Linked DNA regions of Homo sapiens. The protein of the gene in region 2 purifies or fractionates together with the protein of the main gene of each other region. This does not show direct contact. Each region holds a gene or a part of one and is shown on either strand. Other genes may lie near its edges. The genes, in order: YIPF1 and KAZN.

Region 1 (3,820 bases), about 39 Mb from region 2:
TGAGTAATCTGGAAATGATGTAAAGCACATAGGAGGATGTCTGTACACCATTTTTATATAGAGAACTTGAGCATCCATGCTTTGGTATCCATAGAGGGTCCTGGAACCAACCACACCCCCACAACCCCCATACCAAGGAACAAATGTATACAGACACTCATCCACACCTATTTCCTCTGGTCAGACCCCAAATTCTCATCAGATTACTGAAATTAGGCAAAACCAAAGACTAAAGCCAAATTCTCATAATTTCACCACTTCCCATGTAGGTGAGTCTACTTAAAATGAAATTTTATTTCATAGAATCAATTTTTTTTTCTTTTGAGACAGGGTCTCCCTCGGTCACCCAGGCCGGAGTACAGTGGTATGATCTCAGCTCATTGCAACCTCCACCTCCTGGGCTCAAGCGATCCTCTCACCTCAGCCTCCCAAGTACCAGCTACTTGCGATGCTGAGGTGGGAGGATCGTTTAAGCCACGATGCCCAGCTAATTTTTGTATTTTTAGTAGAGACAGGGTTTCACCATGTTGCCCAGGCTGGTCTTGAGCTCCCGAGCTCGAGATCCGCCCACTTGGGCCTCCCAAAGTATTGGGATTATGGGTGTGAGCCAACATGCCCAGCCCATGGACTCAATTTTAAAAGAACTGTTGTGTCTAACAGTTTGAGGTCTTTTAGCATTTGGATATAAAACACACCAAAAGAATATACGACTGAACCCATACCAAGCAGCCCACAGAAAGCAGCATATGGAGCAACACAATTGTCACAATTGTGGCCAATGCAACGCGTCGGTTATCCTCACGAACAGCTGGCCAAAATGTCATTGCCAAGAGAGATCCTGAGATGCCCAGGGCAATCATGACTAGAATCCAACGAACAGCTTTCTGGGGGATAATCCACAGTATCTGAAAGAAGAGAAAAGGAGGAGCGGGGAGTTCTTGGGAGGCATTTGTTCATTCCAGGCACATATGTTTACAAAGGCCCCTGAGCCAATCAGCAGCTGGGCCCCCATTGCCACTCTGGTTTTTCAGTACAGGCTGGAGGAACACCACCAGCATGTAGACTGAGGCATATGCTTTTATAACAAAGGGCCCAAGATCCAATGAAGGCACTAGGCTCCCCAGACCCCTTTCATGCTTAACTTCTAACTTCAAAGGAGATTTTTTCAGAAGAACATGAGTATTGCGCTGGAAATAATGATGGTAGGTCAAATTCTTGGTTGAAGTTTCTACCAAGAACAGAGCATCACTCAGAATCTACTCCCTAAGTATGGTACTTACTGCGGTGGGGATATAAATGAAGAGGGAATATCCATAGACACACACAATCTCCAGAAATGAATAGGAGACGATGTTCATAACTTTGCTGTTTCTCCACATGAGGAAACCCCAGAGTGCAAGAGGAACCAGCCAGGCATAGGCATAGATGATGGTAGCTGCTATGGACACTGAGGATGACAGGACACAAGTTTCAATCTCCATCATGCCTTTAGTAGACTATCAGAGCACTTCCAACACCTTATTGTACTTAAATGCTAACATGTCAATTGACTTCAGTGGACCACGGAATCATGTCTTACTGGTCTGTAATCCCTGAGCTTGGTACAGTACCTAACACACAGTAGGCACTTTAGAAATGTTTGTTGAATTAATGAATCTTTACCATTCGTCTTTGTGGTGAGGATCAATAGTCTCTCATATGGTTTTTATAGGTCATTTAATAACTAACAACTAATATTATTAAACAACTGAACTATGCAACTGAAATACTTCAGAGGGCCACACTGCAAATGTTCATATATAGTAGATATTTCAATCAAATAAAAACCAACTATCCCCTTGGAAGAACATGTTCTCTTCCTCGGTATAACAAGAGCTGACACTGACTTCCTTTTTTTTTTTTTTTTTTTTTTTGAGACAGAGTCTTGCTCTGTCGCCCAGGCTGGAGTGCAGTGGCGCGATCTAGGCTCACTGCAAGCTCCGCCTCCCGGGTTCACGCCATTCTCCTGCCTCAGCCTCCCGAGTAGCTGGGACTACAGGCGCCCGCCACCACATCCGGCTAATTTTTTGTATTTTTAGTAGAGACGGGGTTTCACCGTGTTAGCCAGGATGGTCCTGACCTCGTGATCCGCCCGCCTCCGCCTCCCAAAGTGCTGGGATTACAGGCGTGAGCCACCACGCCCGGCTGACACTGACTTCTTTAGCAAATGTATTAAAATGCCTTGGGTAGAGATTAACTTGCTCTGCATGCTCTCTAGAGTTCCTCTGTCTCTGAAATTGGGAGATGCAGCTCACTGATTAACTGCTTGAAATATTCTCCAGTTATACTTTCTTCCTTAAATAAATAATTCCGCCACTGTGGCAAAAATGCTATTGAGTGGCTCCTCAGAACAGCAACGTTCAGCATATTCCTGTACCTCTCTCCTCTTCCTCTAGTAGCAGCACGCCCTGGAGGATTCCCTTTCCCTCTTCTGGAGTGGAGGTCATAAAGTTATAGGTAAGCCATGGCACCAGCCCTTTCTACATGAAAATCAGTAGGTAATTCACTTAATGCATCTTGGCAAGAACAAAGACACCCCTAACAATTATAGTCAGACTCTGGTTAAGACATGAATGTCCAAAACATGTTTTAGCTCCCAGAACAGTTTTTTCACACTGGGAATTGCCTCGTTAGGCCAAATGTAATTCTGCTGATGTACTGCCTTTTTCTTGGATAACTAAGGGAAGAGGAGGAAATTACTCCCATGGCTATAGCTGTCACTTATTGATCAACTACTGGGCATCAGGTATTACACTCGGTGCTTTATTGAGAGGCAATGTGGAATAATGGTCAAGGGCACAGACTCTGTATACAGACTCCATGGGTTCTAGTTCTAGGAAAAGAAACTCTTGGGGGTAAGTTACTTAACCTTCCTGTCTCAGTTTCCTCATCTATAAAATGGGAAGAAAAATAATATACTACCTTCTAAGATTAATAGGAGAATTAAATGAATAAAAGCAGGTAAGAACTGTTCTATGTAGAAGAGCGACTGATCAATAATAAATGCTCAATCAAGAATTAGTTTTTATATTGTTAACTAATATGTAGCTACATTTATTTCATACAATCTATATTGTCATTTTAGAGATGAGGAAAAGGGGTCAGAGAAGCTAAGTTGTTTGGTCAAGGTCACATAATTAACAAGTTAGTAGAAGCAGGATCTCATCTCAGATGTGACTCATACTTTTTACATAAAACGGAAAAATGTTTATTGATAGGGCCAATGACTACTTTACCAGTATATATATCACATCACTTCCTGATACTGGGATGCCCAGCCAAAGAGGATAAGAACAGGTAAAGACTCTCCTGAGTTTCCAGATCCCCAGGCAAAGTGGTTCACTCCTTCTTCTATGTCAATATACCTACACTTATCTCTGATATAGAGGTTAATATGTACTGTTTACAGCAATAGTCATTTACTAGCTTTCTAACCACTGAACTACTTGAAGGCAGGATCTATATCTCATGGTTAATATTTACTGAATTAAACTCAAATCAAGGTTATTTGATAGAGTTGGGATTGAATCCAAGTCTGACTCCATGATGGACAAGAAGGGAAAGTGGGCATGGAAGGTAGAGGGGAAGAAAAGAAGGAAGGATACATGGATACATTCTCTCTCTCTCTCTCTCTCTCTCTCTCTCACACACACACACACACACACACACACACAGGCAAATACATATCTTTCTATGTACACACAGTGAACTAGCTGAAGGCAGGGTTTCTATCTCATGGTTAACATTTATTGCATTAAACTCAAACCAAGGTTACTGGATA
Region 2 (3,820 bases):
TGCCCCAGTCCACCTGGAGGCTGCCCAGCTGGAGCTCCTGAACTGGAAACTTCTGGCCCAAGACAACCTCCCTTCTAGGATGAAAAGGTCCTGGGGCAGTCCCCCTCCCAGTCCCTCAAGGGCCGGCCTCAGCCTTGTTACAGGACGGTTCTCTCGGGCAGGAGCTGGAGCCCACAGCCCTCTGAATCAGATGCCACTGGGCCAGATTTGTCACTGATGAAGACTAGAATGGCCTCCTCTCCTCTCTGAAGCAAGAGTTTGGTCAGCAAATCAATGGTGCAACAAGAGTTGGGGTGGAGAGCTGCAAAGGGGGCACCCCACTTAACCTACTCGAGAGGGGCCCATCCATAATCAGCAATCTCCATCTGCATGCCCACAATTAATGTGCTCCTGCCCTTCAGAAATGTTCTCTTTTCATTAAGGGTGTCCCCATGGGGCCGCAGCTTGGCGATACGTTCCCAGCTGTTGGTTTGAGCTATTTATTGTAAGAGCCCAAGTTGAATAAAACAGCATGATTTTAAAAGGAATTCAGACATTTTATAAAATCTGTCACTGCCCCATCCCTGAACTGGAGCCGGATTAGACTCTGAAATCTGAGGACGGCACAAAATTTAGATATTGTCTGGGTCACGGCGCAGCACGGAAAACGGGAAGCTGTTCTGGTTCTATTACTTTTTAGCTCTGGGACCTTGAAACTCTGGGTCTCCGTTTTCTCCTCTGTAAAACGGGGAGAATTGCGCTTGCCTCATGGAGTTGTAGGGACTAAAAGAGAGGAGAATGCAAAACCCCTAACACAGGGTCTGGGACACACCTAGTGTTCTATAAATAGTAGTAGTAGAAGCTGTCATTGTTCTTGTTTTTAACACAAAGGCAGCATGGGACACTGGAAAGGCAACTGACTTTGAAGTCAGGTTTTTTGTAGTGTGACTTTATGCTCATGATTTCTCTGCATCTAATTTTCTCCGACTTTATTTTTCAGACGGAGTTTCATTCTTGTCGCCCGGGCTGGAGTGTAATGATGCAGTCTCGGCTCACTGCAACCTCCGCCTCCTGGGTTCAAAAAATTCTCCTGCCTCAGCCTCCTGAGTAGCTGGGATCACAGGCACACACCACCACGCCTACTAATTTTTCTATTTTTAGTAGAGACAGGGTTTCACCATGTTGGTTAGGCTGGTCTCGAACTCCTGATGTCAGGTGATCCACCTGCCTTGGCCTCCCAAAGTGCTGTGATTACAGGTGTGAGCCATCGTACCCGGCCTTCTCCATCTTTAAAATGGGAGTAAGCATGTCTATCCTGCATTGATGTTGTGAGGGTAAATAAAATGATATCCATAAGGTGATGATGGGTTGGTAAGGGGTTGGTGGGTTTTGTCATTGGTATTTTGTAGATAAGGTGACCAGTCCCAGAGAGGACGCCATCATGCCCATGGTCACACAAGATGTCATGGCTGAAAATGTTCTCGAAGATGAACTCATTTAGAGTTCTTACCCCCGAGTCCATGGAGCCCTGAAAGTGGGTGGGCCAGAGAGTCCCACCCACCAACCCAACACAGTGAAAAGTTGTGAAGTTTTGTGTATTTTTTCTAGAGAAAGTGTCAAAAGCTCTTATTAGATTCTTAAAGTGGTCATGATCCTCAAAAGTTTAAAAACCACTGTCCTAATTTAACTCCCTTCACTTCTCAGGTGGGAAACAGTCCCAGAGAGGGCAAGGTCATGTGGCAAACTGGAGACAGGCCAGATTCCCACTGGGAGTAGAAAACTCAAAATAAGTCCTCTGCCTCCTCCAGGAAGCCCTGGGGGTGTCTAAGGGTGGGGCTCCACGATCCCTGGGACCACAGACTCCTGGTTCCTGGAGGTTAACGTGGTGCCACTGTTAGGGATTAAATGTTTCCCTCTGCCATGCCCCCCACCCAATTCACATGCTGAAATCCTAACCTTCGATGTGATGGTATTTGTGGCTGGGGCCTTTGGGAGCTGATTAGATGAGGTCATAGGGGTGCCCTTCATGATGGGATTATTGTCCTTACAGGAAGAGACCAGAGACATCACTCTCTCCCCCTCCCTCTTCCTTCTTCCCCATGTGAGGACACAGCAAGAAGGTTGCCTTCTGCAAGCCAGGAAGAGAGCCCTCCCCAGGTCCCAACCATGCTGGCATCCCGATCTTGGACTTCCAGCCTCCAGAACTGTGAGACGTAAGTTGTTGTCTAAGCAACCCAGATGGTGTCATTTTGTTATGGCAGCCCAAGCAGACTAAGACAGCCCCATTTAGGGGCTGTGTTGTGCAACACACAAGTGCAGGCCATGCTGGGGGACGAGGCTGTCGGGGGCAGGGGCTGGGCAGGCCGCACCCCTGGGAGGCAGAGGACGGTGGGGACGTCCTCCCCCCATGCATTTCTTCTCTTCAAAATCAAAGTGGCTTTTAGTGTTTTTGTTTTTCTGCCCTTGCCCCCACTACAAAAGTAATCTATGAAAAGAAAAGAAGAAAAGCTTATCCCCATTTAGGGGGAACCCAGGCAGTAGCCCAGACTCCTGAAGTTTTTGAAAGATGAAGCAGTCATCCCCACCCTGTTCATTGAACACAGGCAGTGTTTATGGACCCTGCTGGGTGTGGGGTAAGGGGGCAGGAGGGATTTCCTACTTGGGTGACCAAAGATGGTGAGGGGATTCAGGGATGGCTTTAGGGGATTCCTGGATGGAACTGGTTAGGAGGTGGGTGCTGGGTGTAAGGTGTTTTTGGGACCCTCAGGAAGGAAAGCCCAGCAGGGGTTGCCCTCATGGCCCTCCTCCCCATCCCTCAGCCCAGCCCTGTCTCAGACGAGCCAGCATCCTGATGGTGCCAATGAGGCCTGGCACCTTCTTGCTCTGAGTCGCTCCCTAAGTTTCTGATCCAGTCTCACCTCAGTACTTCCTGCCACCCTAGAGTCATGCCGAGGGCCCCTCTCCTGCACACATATGGATTTGGTTTTCCTGCTTCCAAACCAGCCGATTTTCCACCCCAAACCCTGCTTCTAAAAAAATCCCCTAAGCTGCTTCTGCAAATTACAGCACACACCACCAGGTTTGATTAACTAACTACACAAAAATGATGGAGAAACCAGTGAAGGACATAATTATGCAAAACAGAAGTGTCAGATTTACAAAGCGAGTTCTTCCCCTCTCCACATTCTCAGAACGGGGTGGGGCGGGGTGGGGGTGGGGGTTCCTTCCCTTTACCCTGTAGCTGCCCCTGCTCAACAAATTTTGCTCACAGAAAGCCAGGAGAGAGGCAGGCAGGCCGGAGGCAGAGCAGGAGTGGTATGAGCGGTGGGGGTGGGTGGCCTGCGGGGGTACACCTGATGAGAAGGCCCTGCAGCCATCCCAGGTATGCTTGCTAAGAGAAGCCCCCTCCACCTGGCCCGCTCCTCTATGGGAGAGGTTTCACCAAGCCCACTCACGCCTACTTGATCTCTGCCTGCCTCGGCTCTGCCTTGCACCGTTTTTCCTCACCCTGTTATGTATGGTAAGAACCAGGAGCAGACACCATGGCGGCCCAGTGTGCAGAGCTGCTTGGGCTGGTCCCGGAAGGCAGAGGAGTGCTGGGGGGCTCGTGAGGTTCCCGCATTGGTTGGGGGTGTACTAGGGCCTTTGGGGCCTCTTGTCTTCCCCATGTGTCTGTCTTTCTACGGAGGGGGCTGGCCCAGAGCAGGGCTGGGGTATGCCCAAGCCCCCTCATCAGGGGCATCCCCGGACCATCTTAGTCACACCCTGCTGTCCCCCACCACCTGGTTCAGCCCACAGTGCCCCGCTCACCCCACCTGTGTGACCAAAGGCCTCAGGATGA

The links.
Region 1: the proteins of KAZN (region 2) and YIPF1 fractionate together in Homo sapiens (co-fractionation; one large-scale study listed by BioGRID). This does not show direct contact.

Annotation. Positions count from the first base shown.
Region 1 is NC_000001.11:53,865,478-53,869,297, forward strand, and holds part of YIPF1 (protein YIPF1), read right to left. Parts: intron 1,448-3,820; coding exon 1,281-1,447; intron 906-1,280; coding exon 723-905; intron 1-722.
Region 2 is NC_000001.11:15,094,975-15,098,794, reverse strand, and holds part of KAZN (kazrin), read right to left. Parts: intron 1-3,820. UniProt on the Homo sapiens protein: Component of the cornified envelope of keratinocytes. May be involved in the interplay between adherens junctions and desmosomes. The function in the nucleus is not known.